Linked DNA regions of Homo sapiens: regions 1, 2 and 4 are each linked to region 3. The links come from fine-mapping of genetic effects on plasma protein levels. A gene starts in region 3. Each other region holds a variant in brackets. All regions are shown on one strand. Distances are from middle to middle.

Region 1 (5,148 bases), 120 kb after region 3:
ATGAATTACAAGAAGTTAGCAAGGTATACAAGGCCCTCCAGGGCCTGGCCCCTGCCTCCCTACCTTACCAGCTTTATCCCCCGTACTCTCCACTTGTGCTCCAAAACCCCTTGCAATTCTTTTGTGCCCACCTCTGCCCAGCCTCCAAGCCTCCATGGGTCTTCACACAGTCCTCTGTTCTGAATCTGCCTCGTGACTCTGAATCCTAAAACATTTCTGTGTCTCCCACAAGGTCACTCTTACATTCCTTCAGTTTAAAATGTACCTCCCCCAACCCTGCTTTTACACTGTTGGTGGGAATGTAAATTAATTCAACCATTGTGGAAGATGGTGCTGAGATTCCTCAAAGATCTGGAACCAGAAATAGCATTTGACTCAGCAATCCCATTACTGGGTCCCATTACATATATACCCAAAGGAATATAAATCATTCTGTTACAAAGATACATGCATGCACATGTTCATTGCTGCACTATTCACAATAGCAAAGACGTGGAATCAACCTAATGCCCATCAATGATAGACTGGATAAAGAAAATGTGGTACATGTACACCATGGAATACTATGCAGCCATAAAGACAAACAAAATCATGTCCTTTGCAGGGACATAGATGGAGCTGGAAGACATTATCCCTAGCAAACTAAGGCAGGAACAGAAAACCAAACACCACATGTTCTCACTTATAAGTGGGAGTTGAACAATGAGAACACATGGACACAGGGAGGGGAGTAACACACACTGGGGCCTGTTGCGGGGTGGAGTTGGGGGAGGGGAGAGCATTAGGAAAAATAGGTAATGCATGCTGGGCTTAATACCTAGCGTGGGTTGATAGGTGCAGCAAACCACCATGGCACATGTTTACCTACATAACAAACCTGCACATCCTGCACATAGGCCCCAGAACTTAAAATTAAAATTTAAATTTAAAAAAACTCTCCTCCCCCATCCCCCAAGCCCAGCCAGAGCACACAGCTTAGAAAAGAGAGTGTGGCCTGGTGTCCATCCCCACTCATCCTCTTAGCTGCATGTCTTTGTACAGGGAACAATCTGCCCAACTGTACATGGCATGCCTGTCCTGCAGACGGGGTTAGGGCCCGTCCTCTCTGCTCTCTTAGCACACAAGCTTTTCTCTTTCCAAGCATTCATCATATCAAATATGATTGTGTCTACTTTCCCATCCCCCTTCCCAGTACATATACAACCAGGCAGTGAGGCCCCTGTGCTTTTTGTTTCTATACTCCTAATGCTTAGCTCAGTCCTGGCATGATCAAGCCCAAGTCTTCAGGAAAAGGAAGGAAGGAAGGAAGGAAGGAAGGAAGGAAGGAAGGAAGGAAGGAAGGAAGGAAGGATGGATGGAAGGAAAGAAGGAAGGAAATGAAGGAAGAAAATGAAGGAGGAAGGAAGAAAGAAAAAAATGGAAGGGGAAAGGAAGGAGGGAGGGAGGAAAGAAAGAAAGAAAGGAAGGAAGGAAGGAAGGAGGAAGGAAAGAAGGAAGGAGGGAGGGTGGGAGGAAAAGAAGGAAGAAAAGAGAAAGAGGGAGAGAGGGAAGGAGGAGAAAAAAGAAAGGAAGGGAGGGAGGGAGAAAGGAGAAGTTGGTTTAGAGGCCAGCCGGACGAGCTTTGGGCACCGCCCTTAGGAGGGCCACCCTCAGAGTCTGACAGCAGGTGAAGGTCCTAAATCTCCCCAAACTAACTGGTGTCTTTTCTCCTCTTCCAAGATGCTCTTCCCGAGGGAGATGCTAGCCCTTTGGGTCCTTACCTCCTGCCCTCAGGAGCCCCGGAGAGAGGCAGTCCTGGCAAAGAGCACCCTGAAGAGAGAGTGGTAACAGCGCCCCCCAGTTCCTCACAGTCGGCGGAAGTGCTGGGCGAGCTGGTGCTGGATGGGACCGCACCCTCTGCACATCACGACATCCCAGCCCTGTCACCGCTGCTTCCAGAGGAGGCCCGCCCCAAGCACGCCTTGCCCCCCAAGAAGAAACTGCCTTCGCTCAAGCAGGTGAACTCTGCCAGGAAGCAGCTGAGGCCCAAGGCCACCTCCGCAGCCACTGTCCAAAGGGCAGGGTCCCAGCCAGCGTCCCAGGGCCTAGATCTCCTCTCCTCCTCCACGGAGAAGCCTGGCCCACCGGGGGACCCGGACCCCATCGTGGCCTCCGAGGAGGCATCAGAAGTGCCCCTTT[G/T]GCTGGACCGAAAGGAGAGTGCGGTCCCTACAACACCCGCACCCCTGCAAATCTCCCCCTTCACTTCGCAGCCCTATGTGGCCCACACACTCCCCCAGAGGCCAGAACCCGGGGAGCCTGGGCCTGACATGGCCCAGGAGGCCCCCCAGGAGGACACCAGCCCCATGGCCCTGATGGACAAAGGTGAGAATGAGCTGACTGGGTCAGCCTCAGAGGAGAGCCAGGAGACCACTACCTCCACCATTATCACCACCACGGTCATCACCACCGAGCAGGCACCAGGTATGCAGCCCCCAACTCCTGAAGCCATCCTGAAACAGCCATGAGGCACTCACTATGTTCAGGGCATGTGGGTAGAGGAATCTCAAGAAGCCCCGGCCCCACCATCAGTTACCGTCCATTGAGCACTGACTATGAGCTTCGCCCTGTGGCTCAGAATTAATAGCCTCATTTCATTTGTTTGTTGTTTTGGGGGGTTGTTTTAGCAAAGGGGTCTTGATCTTTCGCCCAGGCTGGAGTGCCATGGCACGATCATAGCTCACTGCAGCCTCAAACTCCTGTGCTCAAGTGATCCTCTTGCCTCAGCCTCTTGAGTAGCTGGGACTACAAGCATGCACTATGATGTCCAGCTAATTTTTTTGTTTTTTGTAGAAAGGGGGTCTTGCTTATTGTCCAGGCTGGGGAACTCCTGGGCTCAAGCAATCCTCCCACCTCAGCCTCCCAAAGCACTGGGATTACAGGCATGAGCCAGGACACTCAGCCAACATCCCCATTTTAAAGATGAGACAACTGAAACCCTGAGACCCCCAAGCAACCTGCCAAAGGTCACACAGCTAATGAGCAAGATTCAAAACCTTTTCATCTTGGAACGGAATTCTTCATTTAACCTGCTTCAAAGCCACTAGCCTTTTCAAAGCACATTTGCTTTTAGCATTACATGTATTTTCTAGACTTGATAAAATGCTCTTCTGTGTTCCAGTCTTCTCTACCATCTTTAAAATGGGAGAAGGACCCCCAATTGTCAAGCATACATGGATTTTGGACAAGTGCAATGTGGCCACCCTTCAAAGCACGTGAGCTCTGGGTCCAAATCCTGCTTGCTGTTTGAGCTCGGCCCCTCTCTGAGCTTTTGTTTACTTCCCTCTAAACTGGGGATGAAATATTATCAGTCCCTATGAGAATAAGTGGGGTCACCCCTGTTGACTAGCTAAAATGGTGCCTAGCAGGATATAGTAAGTGATCATTCTGTGTCAATTATTGCTATTTTTATTATCATGTCAATTCTGGAGCTGAGGAATTAACAGCAGAAGGACAGATGGGAACAGCAAAATGCAGGTTCCCCTAAAGCCCCCATTCCACCCCACAGCCCATGGTTGAGCTTACATCCAAGTTGTCTTTGGTGTCCTAATTAAAGTCCTTCCTTCCAGCTCTCTGCAGTGTGAGCTTCTCCAATCCTGAGGGGTACATTGACTCCAGCGACTACCCACTGCTGCCCCTCAACAACTTTCTGGAGTGCACATACAACGTGACAGTCTACACTGGCTATGGGGTGGAGCTCCAGGTAACCCCAGGAGAGTACCTCACAGAGGCTGCCTCGTCTAGCAGGAAGTCTCAGGAGGATTGTCTGAGTCAGGCTTACTGTTATGCTAACTAGTTTGGTTCTGTCTTTGCCCAACCAGGCCAACTTTAGCTGGGTTTTGGCGAATGAGTAGGAGTTCTTAACTCAATGCTTTGCTAAAATAGCTTGTGGGGATAGAGGGAACATGCTGACAAATTCTGAGGTATTTCCCAGAAGGAAAATCCCTTGATACTCTGCTTATCTCACACACACATACACACACGCATGCACGTGCATAAACACACACACACACACACACACACACACACACACACGGAAGCTCCACCTGATTCATTTGATTCTTTCTTGCTTGCTTGCTTCCTTATTTCTCTTTCTCTTTCTTTCTTGCTTGCTTGCTTGCTTCCTGCTTTCTTGCTTCTTTCTCTTTCTCTTTCTTTCTTTCTTTCTTGCTTGCTTGCTTGCTTCCTGCTTTCTTGCTTCTTTCTCTTTCTCTTTCTTTCTTTCTTTCTTTCTTTCTTGCTTGCTTGCTTGCTTTCCTTCATTTTCTGGTTATTAGGACATTTTATTCTTAAACTTTTGCCCATACAGTAAGAAAGGAAAAGCAGGGTGGCATAATGCTCAAACATCTGGGTTTTAAGTCCTACCTCTTCCAGTTAAAACTGCGTGACTTTGAACAAGGAACTTCACCTCTCTGAGCCTCAGTTTCCCGATCAATAAAATAGGAATAATGTTACTGCTTTGTAAAGTTTGGGGGAGCAGTAAATATGACAATGCAGAGATCATTTGGCCACAGCCCAGCAGAGAGAGAGGGAGGAGAGAGAGAGAAATCATTTGGTCAGAGCCCAGCAGAAATCGCGACCATGCAGTGCATGTTATCCATTATCTTCAGTATGCTAATCACCCTGAATGTGTTCCTTTTTCTCATGGGAAATAAAGAGCCATCAAAAGTTTCTGAGCTGGGGCAGGTGTATGACCTTACCTTAGGAAGGTTTTTTGTTTTTGTTTTTGTTTTACTTGTATAAGAGAGACAAAAGGTAAGCCCCTCAGCAGTAGAACCTGTAGTCTTTGCAGTCCCCAGAGCTTTGCACAAGTGTGTGGCACATTGTAGGTCCTTAATAATTGTTCATGGAATTAAAATAAACTGGAGAAAACCTGCAGTCCAGATTATTATAGTGCTTAAGAACCCTTTCCTCCATGTCATGAAGAGTATTGGACCCAGTATGTGTCCAGTACTGTGTGGAGCCTTTTACCAGGCACAGTAGAGTTCATTCATTGAGCAATTAGAATGCACCAGGCAAAGCTGTTGACACAGGAGAATATGTTGATGTAAAAAACTGATGCAATGCCTGCCCTAAAAGAGAAATACGTAGGATGCCATTTAGTAGGGACTC
Region 2 (5,148 bases), 200 kb before region 3:
AGGAGTAGAGTCAGCTCCACCCTAGCCATATGGATGGAGAGTAGAAGAATAGATTCCCCCAAGGAAAATTGAAATGTTAGTGCCAGAAGGAGGAGAAATGGTTTCCAAAAAGGCAAAGCCTTTGGATGCCCACTGTGGAAGCCACATCTGTGGGCCTTGACTCTTGCAGAGATCTCTCTGCCTTGCCACAGGCCCCTTCTAGGTTTTATCTTCTCTGCTTGTGTTCCTGCCTCCTGCTTGACTTTTTCCTCCTCCTTTTTGTATATTTTCTGTTACTCCTGGGGCTGGGACATCCCATAAGTAGGGTGGATCAAAGAAAGGAAATGGAGGCCGGAAGTGGACAGCCTAAATTCCCTTTCTATCTTCTCAAAGGGAGTGGCTCACACAGTAGGAGGAGCTTGCCTTGAAGCCAGGAAGTCTGGGTCCAAGCCACACTTCTGCCTCTGACTGACTCTGTGGACTTGGGCACATCTTTTCCCTTGCTGGACTCACTTTCTCTCTCTGTAAAACGGACCAGACGACTTTTAAAGCTCTTTCTGCTGAGACCCCTGGGCAAGCCCAGAGCTGGTTGGTCATAGAGCTGCAAGCTTTGAGTGTGTCTCAAATGGCTGATAGTCATGGTGGCAGCTTCCTCTGAAACAAGCACATTCCTACACCCCAAGAGCAATGCACAGAGTCACACAATCTCAAACCTGAAGGTGCCCAGGCCTCTTCATTCCAACTGGTATCTTCTCCAACCTCAGACTGGTAAAAATTCCATCTCTGTTATGCAACTGTGGGGTTGGGGAAATTACTACCTCTGTGGGCAACAACATTCCCATAGACCTCCCCTTCTCCATCCCATTCTAGATTGATTCTATAGCTACCCCACAACTGGATTCCAGATGTGTCACCTTATCTGTTGGAGAGAGGGTTTCAAAGGACAGAGAGATATCCCTTGCTTATCTCACCTGGGAGTTAGCAAGGAGGTATCCAGAGATTACCACGTTTTTTTCTTCTTTTAAGTAGCCAAATCTTATTTTAAATCCATAGCTGATACAGATTTGTGGTAAGTAAAAGCAGAGCTCCCCATTAGGGCTCATCTACTTTTCCACCCTGGCCCCTGAGGCAGCACCATAAAATACAGCTTGATAACCTATGGTCAGATCTGGCTGCTGTCCTGATTTTTATAAATAAAGTTTTATTAAGACATAGTCACAAACATTTACCTATTTTCTATGGCTGCTTTGGGGCTACAACAGCAGAGAGGAGTATTTGTGATAAGACCATTTGGCCTACAAAGTCCAAGATATATACTACCTGGTCCTTTACAGAAAAAAAAATCACTTACCTTTGCCCTAGAACATTGCTTAGCACAGAGTAGGCATAAAAAAATACATGCTGAGAGAAGAAAGAGCTTGACAGGACAAAGAACTGGGAATAAGGAGACTTAGATGCAAATCTCAGTTCCATCATGTCCTTACTGTGTGACTTTAGTCAAGGCACTCACTTTCTCTGTTTCCCTGTTAACTCATAAAATGGAGACAATTATTGCAACTGCTTCACAGCATTGTGGGGATTACTTAATAAAATAATGTGTTTAAATACTTATTACAGTGCCTGGCACAAAGTAAGCCCGCCTATCATCATCATCATAATAACCATCATCATCATCATTATCATCATCATTGCCATATCATCTTCTTCATCACCACCACCATCACCACCAACACATCATCTTTTCCACCATTCCCACCATCAGCATCACCTCCATTGTTACCACAACCATTACCATCATTATCTTCATCACTGTCATCATCACCACCATTTGCATCATCATCACCATCACCATCAATCATCATCTTGATCACCACCATCATTATCATCACCATCATTACCACCACCACCATCATGAAAATTATTATTATCACTCTCATCACTGTGACCACCGCCATCATCATCACATCATTATCAGAGTGAGACTAGAATCAAAGAGCACTGCAGAGCCCCTTCAAGAGTAGGCAAGCCCTGTGATTCAGAGCAGGCATATAAGTCTAGGCCAGTGGTTGAATTATTTCCTATTTGAAAATTCTGTGAATGACGTCCCCAAATGCAGTATACCCCACCTTGTGACCTGTGAGTTCATAGATGCCTCCTTCTTTGTGCTCAGTGTCCTGAGTGTCAGCTTCATTGGAATTCTGCCTTCTCCAGCCTTGTCTTGGCTGCATTCCAGGTAAATGACTCGGAGCCCATCTTGCTGCATGTCACCTCTGCCGCCCGCCCGCTTGGATAATTAGAATCAACACATTCATTTCCCTAACAGCATTCTCATCTCCCCCTCTCAAAGTTTTCAAATGGAAAAAGAAAGGCAAAAACAAGCTACATCTGTCCTTGTTCAGGCAATTTGCAGCTGTCTGCAGCTGACATCCACCCAGCTGGGCGGCAGAACTAGCTTTCCTGTTTGCTTTTGGTGGAAGATGATGTGGTTGATGCTGTTATTAAAGTTTGGCAGTGGTTTGGAGACAAAGCGTCCTGCTGGAGAGAGACT[T/TATAAAC]AAACACTCAGGGGGAATCCTTCAGGCTCCTGCCTTTGTGAGCTAATTGCTTGGTGGGTGGGGAGAAGAAAAAAGACTGATGTCACTTTTCAGCAAACAAAAGGAAAGGAACTCAAGAAATAAGATGATTTTCGGTTTTTGCTTCTTTCTGAGAGCCTGCTGAGTTTGCACACAGGTAGCAACTGGATGCTCTGATCCAGGGACTGGCAAGTATTTTCTGTAGAGGGACAGGTAGTAAATATTTTAGACTTTGTAGTCCATACTGTCTCTGTCACAACTACTCAACTCTGCTGTCGCAGCACAAAAGCAGCCCTAGACATTATGCAAATGAATGAATAGATGAGCGTGGTTATGTTCCAATAAAACTTTATTTAGAAAAACAGATGGTGGACTGGATTTGGCCCACGGGCTGTAGTTGGCCAACTCTTGCTCTATGCTCTGTTGGAAGAAGAAGTGGAGTTGGAGGCAGACAGCAGAGCTGGGTTTAAATCTTGTCTCGATCTCTTTCAGGCACCTGTCCTCTTTGAGTCTTTGTTTCTTCATCTGTAGAATGGGTTATCAGGTAGTTGGGAGATTAGAATGTTTTGCACATGTTAAGTGGTCAATAAATTGTAATTCTTTGTAGTACTCACCCGCTGACCCCAGCCAAAAAACATGAGAGAGTGAAACCAAATAAAGAAGGCTGTCTGCTTTCCTGTTGGCCCTAGCTATGGTTACAGTTCAGTGATGCAGATCTTTTTGTAGCTCATTTGAGAGTCTGGCAGCTCTGAGTTTCCCAGGATGATCCTTCTGTTGTCTGTTCCTACCAGTGCCTTCCCACACCAAGATGCCTTCCTGTGTTCAGACTATTTCGTTTCCATCACAAAGGCGCGGCCTCAGTTAGGAAATCCCAAGTATGCAAATTAAGATTCTGTTTATGCACTTTTGTTGTTTAGAGAGAGTAGTTTTTGTTGTAGTTGGGTCGACATTAAAGACTTGTTGTCTGTAAGCCAAAGACATGGCTGCATGTCAAATCTAACAATCATGTTTGCATTTTAACTGGTATGATTTTCAAACAGGGTCCTAGGGACAATTCAGACTTATGTGTGCTGATACTCATAGTTAAGATTCACTTAACCTGAAAGGGCAAAAAAAAAAAATTTTTTTAGTAGAGACGGGGTTTTGCCATGTTGGCCAGGCTGGTCTCGAACTCATGACCTCAGGTGATCCACCTGCCTCTATCTCCCAAAGTGCTGGGATCACTGGGATTCATGCCACTGCATTCCAGCCTGGGTGACAGAGTGAGACTGTCTCAAAAAAAAAAATACATACATATATATATAAATAAAATATATGTATTTTATATTTATATATGACTCACAGGTCATTACATATATATTTTTCCATGAATATATGCATATATATATACATAGGAAAAGTGTGACCAGAACCCCGATTTGTGATTCTGTGGTTAGTTGCTTGCTTGGTTTGCATCTGTTAAGGATGTCAGCTGGAGGTATATTTTAAGTTGCATTATGTATAGCTTGTATTTACTTGTTATTATTACTTATATAACAGCCTATCATTTGTGCCAGGCCTGAGCATGTTTTATACCTCATGTCATTTAATTCTCTTCAATTTCGTGTGACTTATGGCTTTACTTTTCAAAATATATTCGCAGATCAGCAGCCTTGGCTATAGAAATGTAGAGTCTCAGGCTCAGCCCCACACCTTTGAGTCAGAATTGGCTTTTTAACAAGGTCCCAGGTGACTCCTAGGCACAGCAGCATGGCAGGAGCCCTGATGTCGGTATTTCATCAGCACTGAATTGCAGGTGAGGAGACTAAGGCTGAGAGAGGTTAGAGACGAGATCTCGGCTGGGCACGGTGGCTCACGCCTGTAATCCCAGCACTCTGGGAAGCCGAGGCAGGTGGATCACCTGAGGGCAGGAGTTGGAGACCAGCCTGGCCAACATGGCGAAACCCCTTCTCTACTAAAAATACAAAAATTACCTGGGTGTGGTGGTGCATGCCTGTAATCCCTGCTACTCCGGTGGCTGAGGCATGAGAATTGGTTGAACCTAGGAGGTGGAGGTTGCAGTGAGCCAAGATCGTGCCACTGCACTCCAGCCTGGGTGACAAAGTGACTCTGTCTCAAAGGAAAAAAAAAAAAAAAAAAAGAGATAGGATCTCCTCCCATGCAGATCTCACCCACACAATCCACTACACAATTTAGCTATGGTTCCTGCCTCTGTATTACTGATTTGTTTTTTTGCTTCTAGATCTTGTTTCTGAAGGACACTATCTACTTCCTATTGTTAAGCATCACTTTCTTCTTGGTGCTTCCAGTGTGGGGTCCAGAAGCTAACCACACACTTAGTAGGTGTTCCAATATTTACTAATTGCCGAGTGAACCCATGAAACATTCACACATGCAAAAGTGAGAGCTTACTCTTAAAAATGGGGTGGTGGTGGTGGCTGTGAATATCAATCAAAAGGGTTTCCTGAGCACATCTGCCCTTCAGGGCTTTGCATTTTTAGAACATAGAACAATAGCACCTCTTAGAACCTTCAGACCATAGAAATATAGAACACAGAACGTAGGACAGAACCCAGTGGCTCTTGGCCTGGAGTTCCTCCAGT
Region 3 (5,120 bases):
AAAAATCAGATACTTATCTTTCAGATGGCAATAACCACACCTCGTTTTCAGGAAGATTATGAAATTGAAATGAGAGACCATGCTCGGTGTGGGACAGCACCTGGCAAACAGTGGATTCTTTACACAATAGTTTCCTTCTCAGTTGGGTTGTTTGGTTTTTTTCCTGTAAATTTGTTTAAGTTCCTTATAGATGCTGGATATTAGACTTTTGCAGATGCATAGTTTGTAAAATTTTTCTCCCATTCTGTAGGTTGTCTGACATTACTGGGTATATACCCAAAGGAATATAAATTGTTCTATTATAAAGACACATGCCCATGTATGTTCATTGCAGCACTATTCACAAGAGCAAAGACATGGAATCAACCTAAATGCTCATCAATGAATGAGCATATATACGGTACATATACACCATGGAATACTATGCAGTCATAAAAAAGAATGAGATCATGTTCTTTGCAAAAACATGAATGGAGCTGGAGACCATTATCCTTAGCACACTAATGCAGGAACAGAAAACCAAATATCACAAGTTCTCACTTATAGGTGGGAGCTAAATGATGAGAGCACACAGACACATAGAGGGGAACAACACACACAGAGGCCTACCAGAGGGTGGAAGGCAGGAGGAGGGAGAGGATCAGAAAAAAATTACTATTGAGTACCAGGCTTAATACCTGGTTGGTGAAATCATCTGTACAACAAACTCCCATGACACAAGTTTGCACACATAACAAACCTGCACAAGTACCCCTGAACCTAGGAATTAAAAATAGTTTCCTTGCCTCCAAGTATGGAGCTAAACTACCTCTTCGTTTTTCTCTCGCTCGCTTTCTTCCCTTTCCCCTCCTCCTCCATCTTCCTTGCTTCTTTAGGTTTCCATTGAACAAGTCTCACTGAGCACCCGCTGCATGCCTGCATTATACTATACAGAGCCTGAGCGTATAGCCACAAACAGGCAAGGTCATTCCACAGAGAGCTGGCAGCCTCATACAGTAAAGCATGGAGTGCTTCATCTTCTCCAAAGGAGAAATCAGCACTCCTGCATCCCTGCCTCAGCCACCTTCTTTATAAAAGCCAGTTGGGTTTACTGCCAGGAATGGAAACCTCTTGCAGCTGAAGATAGGATTTTATGGGGGGGCTCTCTGTCCCCCAAAGCCTGAGGCAGGTCTGGGCCTATAGTCAGTGGCCTGTAAAAGAGCATTGTTTGAGTGAGTAAATGGGGAAGCTCTGGGTGTGGAGCGTCTTCTGAAACCCTGGGCCAGAGTGCTTCTCCTTCCCTCCTCCATCCAGTGTTCACCTCCCCCACCCATTCTTTCTAGGGACTCCCGGCTCCACCACGCTGCTAAAGACATATTCCTCCCCCTGTTGCTGCCTGCAACCTTCTCTCCATCTGCTCCCTCTGCCTGTTCAGGCTGCAGTGTGTAGATAGTATGGCAAGGTAGGGTAGGGGGAGGAGGACAGCTTCTAAATTGGGTGAGAGGCCTGTAAAGCCTGACCGGTCTGCCAAGGCTACGCAGGGAGAGACAGTCAGTCTCCAGGACTGTGCATAAGCTTGTCCCCACCTAGCTCTCTGCCAATGTCTGTCCCCAAGTATCTGTTTATCTCCCTCATTGATTGTCCCTCACTACCTCTATTTGTGGAGAAAAGACTTTGCTTGAGAATCAGGCCTGGGCAAGAATGCTGCAGAGGTGGGCCTTGTAGTCCTGCTCAGATAGGGAAGCGGGTACAGGAAGAGGCAAGCGGCTGACCTGAGAGGAAGCCTCGCAGCGCTAGTGCCCTGCCGGCAGTGGGGTTATGGGAGACAGGGCTCAGATTAAAAAGTGGAGGTGGATCTTAATTTAGAGTTCGTGATTGGGCTTCAGAGGGGTCCAGACCCCCTCGTGTTAGATGCACGATTTTGTGGCTATGTGTAGTGTTCTAGTAGATTCACAGCTGTCACCAGATCCACAGAGTTACAGACTTTCTAGGTTATGGGGACTCACTTTGGAAGCAGTGAGGCCCTGGCGGGGAAGCAGGCTGGCTGGATCCCAGAGGGCTCTGGAAAGAACTGGAACTGGGATGTATCTGGAAGGCTGGGCAGGCAATGGAAAGCTCCGGGCTGCTCATAAGCTCGGTTTCCAGGGCTCCATCTCACCGTCTGGAAAATGGTCCGGGTGCTCTCCAGCCTGGCCTGGCCAGGCAGAGCTGCTGGGAGCGTCAGCAGGGAGAGAAAACGCTCGGCTCCCAGGACGCAAGGGGAATTGGCGTTAAACTTTGCAGGGCCGACGGGCCGGCGGCCAGAGGAGGCGGCTGGCACCCCCGGCGCCGCCGCGGCCCCTCCAGCTCACTGCCCGCTCGCCCGCCCCCTCCCTCCCTGCACTCGCTCGGCACAGACTCGGCCCCAGCCCCCTCCCTCCTCCCGCTCGCTCCACGCTCGTTCGCTCGCTCGCCGGCTCCTCCTCACTCGCCCGCCCGCGCCCGGCGCAGCTCGGCCAGAGCGACCGCGGGGCTGAGCGCGCGTCCGCCCAGGGGGCTCCGGAAGCTGCCCCGGCCCGCGGCCTCCTCCCTCGCTCCCGCTTCCCCTTTCTCGCTCACCGCCGCCCTCCTTCCCCAGCTCCCTCGCCGTCCGCCCGCCCCACAGCCAGCGGCTCCGCGCCCCCTGCAGCCACGATGCCCGCGGCCCGGCCGCCCGCCGCGGGACTCCGCGGGATCTCGCTGTTCCTCGCTCTGCTCCTGGGGAGCCCGGCGGCAGCGCTGGAGCGAGGTAAGCGCCCCGAGGGGCGGGGCGGGCAGGGGGCAAAGTTGCCGGGAGAGCGGGGCAGCCAGGGGTCGGGGCTGACCAGGGCGACTCAGGCACCACCCGCCGGGATGGGAAGCGGTGGTGGCTGTCCAAAATCGGGGCTAGGAACCGCACGTCCCCTTGGCCCGGGCTGATGGGAGTGTGGAGGCGGGGATGTGTTGAAGGACTCGGGCGCTTCCCTGCTTCGGCTGCGGGCTCCCTTTCGGTCTTCCCCGGCTGCGGGGCTGATTCTCCTTTGCAGCCAAAGAGGTTCTCCTTGGAGTGGGGTCGCCTCCAAACCCCAAATTCCCGGCGCTTCTCTGCAACCGCACCCGGGGCTAGGTGCCAGATAATTATCTTCCTCTCCGGGAGAGGACAGGAAGGGGGGTGAGAAGCTGACCCACCCTGCAACTGAGGACTAGACTCAAACAGTGCATTTGCCGCTCCCCCCGACACCACAGAAACCCTTGACTCCTTTGGTTCAGGCTACCCCGAGGGTCTGTGTTCCTGGATCGATCTCAGCCAAGCGTCAGGATACCGGACTTGGGTGTGGCTTTCGCTAGAGGCCGGTGGAGGGGGCTGAGGGCTCTGAGAACTTGGTAGGGGAGGGAGAAGAGATGTTAGTTAGCAGTTGGGAACCTGAACGGGCTCCCCTCTACTCTCTCCCCTACTGCCTAGCATCTCTGATCACTGTTAGGAATGGGGGGTGAGGGGTGTTAGTTTCATCTACCACGTGTTTGTTGAAGGGGAAGAGGGGCCCAAATTTAGCAGAGAATGACAGCTCCTCTTTCTCAGACCTGGAACCATACCCTCTCTCCACCCCGGTAAGGTACCCCAGGAAAAGTTATGGGTGGGGGAGAGGGCCAGATAGAGAGAGGGGTGCAACGCCTAACTCACCCAAAGCTAACCCTCAGAGCTTCGGGGGTTTTCTCAGGCACCTAGGAGACCCGAAAATCAATGGGAGGGTTAGTTGGCCACAGGACCCGGCCTTCTTGCAAGGTCCCAGAAATGCGCTCCTCACGTGTAAAAAAGCAGACAGCTGCAGGGTCTGCCCAGGCTGAAGACAGAGGGAGCGCAGGCACTATGCTTATCTGGGGCTCCGCCTCTGTCATTTGCACCGTCTTGACTCGGAGTTGGGGGACAGGCGGTGTTCTTCTCCGGGGAGTTCTGGACCCCCAGCGCGCGCACCTGCTTTCAGCACCAAAGGCCCTGGACAGCTCTCAGCTCCATGGGCCCTGGCTCTGGGTCCCTTTCCCTTCAACCCTTCCCGGTGGCCTGGAGTGCCCCCCTCAGCATAAATCAGGCATTTTATCCCCCATCTCCCCGTCTTTTTAAATGTAGAGCCCAGAGTGCAGAGCAAAGGAAATTGTTCATCACCTTTTGTTTAACAAAGCATATCATTGAAGAACCCCCACCCCTTTTTTATGGGGCAATAATGTCCACAATTTACACCAGGTCTGGACAGTTTCTCTGGGAAAGATAGGGAAAGAGATTTGGTTTAAACAAATCGTTTCCACCACAGCATGGCCTTTCTTAATTAGCTGTCTCTTTCTAACAATGGCTTGGTGGCCTTGAACTGAGTCCAGCTCTCCCTCCCCCACCCCCTTTTGAATCTGTGTTGTGACTAACACACATATAAAAAGAACCTGAATCTACCCAGCAGCTTACTGGATTTTCTAAAGCAGTTCTACCTCTGAGAACTCCACTCTCCAATACACCACCTTGCAGGGAAAAAAAAATTGTCTTAATGGCACGTATTGAATTGTCATCTAAGACAAGGATTTCCTATTCTGTTTCCTTCACGGGCTGCAAACACATTGTAAGAGCAGGGGGAGACATGTGTGTGTTTTAATTTTTAAGACATTTCATACTATTTTTCCAACTGCTCAACACCATGGCTAGCCAGCATATTTTTTAAATTGACTTCAGGTCACCACCAAATTAAAGTCAATTGATGTGCTACTTCAGAAAGCTCATTAATAAGTGTGTGGTTCTGACTCTGAGTCATAAGGAGGGAGTGATACTGGCCAATGAGCATTGCCGAGTCTGATGGTGCATTTGGAGACAATTGACCTTCCACAATAAATTCTATTTTTAATGTAGAGCCCAACATCCACTAATGTCAGATGGAGAACCATTCACCTAACTCGTTGTTGCGAACTAGTTCTTCTGCTTGCGGTGAAGTGAGGGGATTTGTAAATACTCAAAAGGGACTTGTTGCTACATTCTGATGCAGGTCACGTGGTTCTCTGGGCCATTTCGCTGTAAGGCATGAATAAGTATAAAGTATAACTTGTTTTTGAAGAGCCTCCTTATTGTCTCAGATATGCACATGGGGAATAATTGTAACTACATGCAA
Region 4 (5,148 bases), 200 kb after region 3:
GATAACTAATTCAGTACAGTACAGTGCATGCAGTGCTGGAGAAACTAAGAAGACTGACGACTCAATTCACGGTAGGAGGCATCAAGGAAGGCTTCCTGGAGAAGGAGAAATGAAGATTGAGTATTGAAAGACAAGACGTAGTCATAATGGATGCGCAGGTTAGGTGTCAGGTGAAAAGCAAGAAGAAGATTTCATAATTAAACACCACCACCGTCCATCATTTACTAAGTACGTATGACATGCCAAAAACAAAACATCTTAAGCATTTCCTTACTTACCTATTTTAGTCCTCCAAATTCCTAGGAGATAGATATTACTTTGATCGTCGTTATGCTAATGAGGAAACTAAGGATCAGAAAGGTTATGCCACTTGCTGGCGATCACACAGCTAACAAGTAACAGAACTCATATTTTAACCTTGATTCCTCAGCCAACTTCATTCTACCTTGCCTGTATGTAATCTGTGCCCAGAGGTGGAAGACAGAAAGAACAGTTTGAGAAATAGAAAACAGTCTGATGCAAGGTGGGGATGCAGAGAGAGGATGCTGGAGAGGCTGACCAAAGCTAGATCACACGGGTTCTGAGCAGGACTCCCCAAAGATTTGCATCATCTCATCAGAGCTCCTTCTGGCTTGCATTTCAGCGGAGGAGTCCCTGGCATGTGACAACCCAGGGCTGCCTGAAAATGGATACCAAATCCTGTACAAGCGACTCTACCTGCCAGGAGAGTCCCTCACCTTCATGTGCTACGAAGGCTTTGAGCTCATGGGTGAAGTGACCATCCGCTGCATCCTGGGACAGCCATCCCACTGGAACGGGCCCCTGCCCGTGTGTAAAGGTAAAGAAACCTACTCACCACACAGGGTCCACGGGGCCTGGAGATGTCAGGCTCCTGGCTCACAGGAGTTCTGAACTTGCTCTAAAAAATTGGACTAGGAGTTCGAGACCAGCCGAGGCAACATAGTGAGACCCCCATCTCTACCAAAAAAAAAAAAATTAGTCAGGCATGGCGGCACACACCTGTAGTCCCAGCTACTCGGGAGGCTGAGATGGGAGGATCACCTGAGCCTAGGAGGTCAAGGTTGCAGTGAGCCTTGATCATGCCACTGCACTCCAGCCCGGACAGAACGAGACTCTATCTCAAAAAAATTAAATTAAATTTTAAAATAATAGAGCTGAGCTGCTGTACTTCATTAAATCTAAGATGTCACCATGACTTTATGCACCACTAAAAAAGAAAAAAACATGCTGCCAATTATACTATGACACAATGTCTTCTCCTGGCTTAGCATTTTTATTTTTACTTACTAAAGGAGCTTTTGACCAGGCACAGTAGCTCACGCCTGTAATCCCAACACTTTGGGAGGCTGATGCAGGCATATCACTTGAGGTCAGGAGTTCAAGACCAGCCTGACCAACATGGTGAAACCCCATCTCTACTTAAAATACAAAAAAATTAGCTGGGCGTAGCGGTGCATGCCTGAAGTCCCAGCTACTCGGGAGGCTGAGGCAAGAGAATCACTTGAATCCAGGAGGCAGAGGTTGCAGTGAGCCGAGGTGGCTCCACTGCACTCCAGCCTGGGTGACACAGCGAGATTCTATCTAAAAAATGAAAACATAAAGGTCTTTAAGCTTTTTATCATATATCACAATTATGAAAATGTTCAAATGAAAATATAAGCAGCCCAGGTGCAGTGGCTCACACCTGTAATCCTAGCATTTTGGGAAGCTGAGGTGGGAGGATTGCTTGAGCCGGGGAGTTTGAGACCAGCCTGGGTAACATGGTGAAACTGTCTCTACAAAAACAAAATAATGATAATAATACAAAAATTAACCTGATGTGGTGACGTGTGCCTGTAGTCCCAGCTACTTGGGAGGCTAAGGTGGGAGGATCACTTGATCCCAGGAGACAGAGGTTGCAATGAGCTATGATCATGCTACTGCACTCCAGCCTGGGTGACAGAGTGAGACTCTGTCTCAAACAAACAAACAAACAAACAAACAAAATACAAGCAAAATAAACTGGTTCCAGTGTATTTAAAACTTCCCCACCTTCAAAGTCTGGCACTTTTGATTTTCTAAATTATTACTAAATTTTTTTGTAGAGACAGGGTCTTGCTATGTTGGCCAGGCTGGCCTAGAACTCCTGACCTCAAGCGATCCTCCCTCCTCTGCCTCTGAGTAGCTGGGATTGCAGGTATGAGCCACCACACCCAGCTGTAGAATCATTTTTTACTCCAAGTCTTCAACATCCTATTTTTCCACTCAATATCGCTCCTGTTGAATGTCATTGTGTACTAAAATATATATACATTTACATACATACATAGCTCCTGTCCCATTAAAGCATCAGGGATGCAGAATTCTGTAGGAACGTCCATAACGAACTAAAGTCTTTGATACAAGGGGCTTGCAGTTACATTGAGGCAGGGCTGGGACGAGTCTGAGGCAAAAGAGGTGCCTGAGGTGAAAAATGTAAGGAGGTGACCAAGCGTCCCGTAGAACAGCCTTAAAAAAAGAGTCTCCGTACACTTCTCGCCCTAGACAGCTCTCGCCTTGCCCTAGTCCCGGCCCTGTGATCCAGCCTGGTTTTTGTTGATTTGTTTGTTTGTTTTTGTTTGTTTGTTTGTTTGGAGACAGGGTCTTACTCTGTTGCACAGGCTGGAATGCAGTGGCGTGATCATTACTCACTGCAGCCTCAACCACCTGGGCTCAAGCTATCCTCCTACCTCAGCCTCGCGAGTGGCTGGGACCACAAGTGCACGCCACCACGCCCAG[C/G]TAAATTTTTTTATTTTTGTAGAGATGGGGGTCTCGCTATGTTGCCCAGGCTGGTCTCTACTCCTGGCCTCAAACGATCCTCCCACCTCGGCCTCCCAAAGTGCTGGGATTACCGCATCTGACCTCTGCCTGCTTTTGACCCCTGCTTAGAGAACCCTGCTTAATTATTTCCCACCTCTTGCACTGCCTCCTCACAACCAGTTAGTTCCCATGGGTTAGGAGTGTTCCTCCACTGCCTACAGGGTGATCTCCCAGGGCGTTACCTGGCGTTCTGCAAACCCTAATACTCTTAACGCCCCCAGTTTGTGCACACGGGGAATCGTGAGCGCCACCTGGTGGCAGCTATTATTACACATTATTGCTTTAAGCCTCGCCCCCACCTCCCAGATGGTGAAGTGAGAAAATTGCATCTTAGAATCCATTGAACACTCATCACTAAAATTAAGTTGTAACACACTAAGTAAAATTTGGATTCGTTTATCTGGACTTTTGAAGTGCACAATCAGTAATAGTAACGGAAATATGTTCAGTGTTTTAGGCCAGTGGATCTTAACCTTTATTGCTTTAGTGCCCCTTTGAGAATCAGGCAAAAGGCTCGAATTTGCCCTCCAGAAGGAACAGAAGCATGAAGTTTTATGTCTCTACTTGGGAACCCCTAACTTCAGTGGATCCCCAAATGCCTTATTCATGAACCCCAGCTCTGAGGCTTAAAACTACTTTCCCAGTTAGTTTGTCCACTCCGAGGTATATTTCCAAAAGAAGTGAAACAGGTATTTAAGCAAACCCTGTCTAAGAATGTTTATAGGAGCACTATTCACAATAGCCACGAGATGGAAACAACCCAAATGCCCACCAACTGATGAATGGATAAACAAAAGTGTGGCAGAAAAAAGGGAATATTATTCAGCCATTAAAAGGAACGAAATACTGACACATACCACAACATGGATGAACCTCAAAGCCGTTATGCTGAGTGAAGGAAGCCAGACACAAAAGGTCACATGTTTTAGGGTTCTGTTTCTAGGAAACATCTAGAATAGGTAAATCCATAGAGACAGAAAGCAGAGTCGTGGTTGTCTAGGGACTGCTTACTGAGTATGGGGCTTGTTTTGGAGATGAAGAACATGTTTTGGAACTAGGCAGAGGTCATGGTTGCGCACCATTGTGAATATGCTGAATGCCACTGAATTGTAACACTTTGAAATGGTTAATTTTATGTTATGTGAATTTTATCTACCTAAAAAAAAAAACAATTCCCCTGAATCACCTCTGTTAAGTCTTATGACCACTGTCTAAGATAGGTGAGCCATCTTACCTGTTTTACAGATGTGGAAGGAGAAGCTCAGAGAAGTTAAGTGATTTTCCCAAAGCCACACAGCTAGTACAAGACAAAGCTAGGACTTGAACCCGCATCTCATGACTGTAAATTTCCCGCCTTCAGGGCTACTAAGAAAGACCCCCAACCAGCCAGTCACCGCAGCATGGAAACCTAGGTGTGTTCACACATTCCCGAATCTAACCCAGATCTCCCAAAGCAAAATCATTGAGAGGCGGGCCTGGAATAAGCCTTTTAACAAGCTCTCAAATGCACTTTGAATGTGAGAACCATTTAAGGCCGTGATTTCCAAACATAAACGGAGTCCTGAGCCCTTTCCACGGAGATTCTGATTCACTGGGTCTAAAGCAGGACCCAGGGACCAGTTTAACTAACCACACAGGTGAATTGTATCATCAGCCAAGTATGGGAAACACTAGCATGAGGGTTGCAATTTAATCTTACCAGGTATCAAGCAGGGGCTCATCACGTGAATGACAATGACTTATATAAGCAGTTCTTTTGTTTTTTTTTTTGAGACAGATTCTCGCTCTGTCCCCCAGGCTGGAGTGCAGTGGCTGGATCTCGGCTCACTGCAAGCTCCGCCTCCCGCATTCACGCCATTTCTCCTGCCTCGGCCTCCCGAGTAGCTGGGACTACAGGCGCCCGCCACCACACCCGGCTAATTTTTTGTATTTTTAGTAGAGACGGGTTTTCACCGTGTTAGCCAGGATGGTCTCGATCTCCTGACCTCGTGATTCGCCCACCTCTGCCTCCCAAAGTGCTGGGATTACAGGCGGAGTCACTGCGCCCGGCCGTAAGCAGTTCCTAATAAGAGAACAAGGGGTCCTTTTGAAGAGCAGCGAACAGTAAGAAATCCACAATTAGCATTCAAGACAGCTGCCTTCCCTCATTCCCCCATAATTTTGACTAAGTCCAGCCCAGTGTTTGAATTTATTTTATTTGTGTATTTTTAATAGAGACGGAGTTTTGTCATTTTGCCCAAGCTGGTCTTGAACTCCTGGGCTCAAGGGATCTGTCCACCTCAGCCTCCC

Direction of the effects. Alleles are on the strand shown, and positions count from the first base shown. The strength of an association depends on the size of the effect and on how common the allele is.
For the plasma level of the protein whose gene starts at base 2,445 in region 3, allele T in region 1 goes with a lower level than allele G (moderate association).
With allele T in place of TATAAAC in region 2, the plasma level of the protein whose gene starts at base 2,445 in region 3 is lower (moderate association).
For the plasma level of the protein whose gene starts at base 2,445 in region 3, G is the low allele of the variant in region 4 and C is the other (weak association).

Evidence for each region. PIP is the posterior inclusion probability: the model's chance that the variant is causal. The UK Biobank Pharma Proteomics Project read protein levels with antibody pairs (Olink). The fine-mapping took linkage between variants from a reference panel, not from the people measured, so its PIPs are less certain.
Region 1: its variant is fine-mapped to the plasma level of the SEZ6L protein (UK Biobank, PIP above 0.99). The variant lies in the coding sequence of SEZ6L. If it changes the protein, the assay may bind it differently, which can mimic a change of level.
Region 2: its variant is fine-mapped to the plasma level of the SEZ6L protein (UK Biobank, PIP above 0.99).
Region 4: its variant is fine-mapped to the plasma level of the SEZ6L protein (UK Biobank, PIP above 0.99).

Annotation. Positions count from the first base shown.
Region 1 is chr22:26,290,687-26,295,834 of GRCh38, forward strand. SEZ6L (seizure related 6 homolog like) reads left to right here. Exons shown (of 17, transcript NM_021115.5): 2 at 1,720-2,460; 3 at 3,606-3,739. Among named protein-coding and RNA genes, the nearest start is that of SEZ6L-AS1, 47 kb to the left of the region's middle. The variant G/T (reference allele first, on the strand shown) is at 2,179.
Region 2 is chr22:25,968,293-25,973,440 of GRCh38, forward strand. All of the region lies in intron 39 of MYO18B (myosin XVIIIB), which reads left to right. Among named protein-coding and RNA genes, the nearest start is that of MYO18B-AS1, 71 kb to the left of the region's middle. RefSeq lists enhancers at 1,904-2,696, 2,697-3,487. The variant T/TATAAAC (reference allele first, on the strand shown) is at 2,528.
Region 3 is chr22:26,167,018-26,172,137 of GRCh38, forward strand. It overlaps SEZ6L (seizure related 6 homolog like), which reads left to right and starts at 2,445. Exons shown (of 17, transcript NM_021115.5): 1 at 2,445-2,746. The coding sequence starts at 2,653. It overlaps LOC105372971 (a long non-coding RNA gene), which reads right to left and starts at 2,217. Exons shown (of 6, transcript NR_188586.1): 1 at 1,986-2,217. RefSeq lists a silencer at 2,468-2,597 and an enhancer at 3,424-4,363.
Region 4 is chr22:26,364,729-26,369,876 of GRCh38, forward strand. SEZ6L (seizure related 6 homolog like) reads left to right here. Exons shown (of 17, transcript NM_021115.5): 13 at 644-838. Among named protein-coding and RNA genes, the nearest start is that of ASPHD2, 62 kb to the right of the region's middle. RefSeq lists a silencer at 3,033-3,152. The variant C/G (reference allele first, on the strand shown) is at 2,779.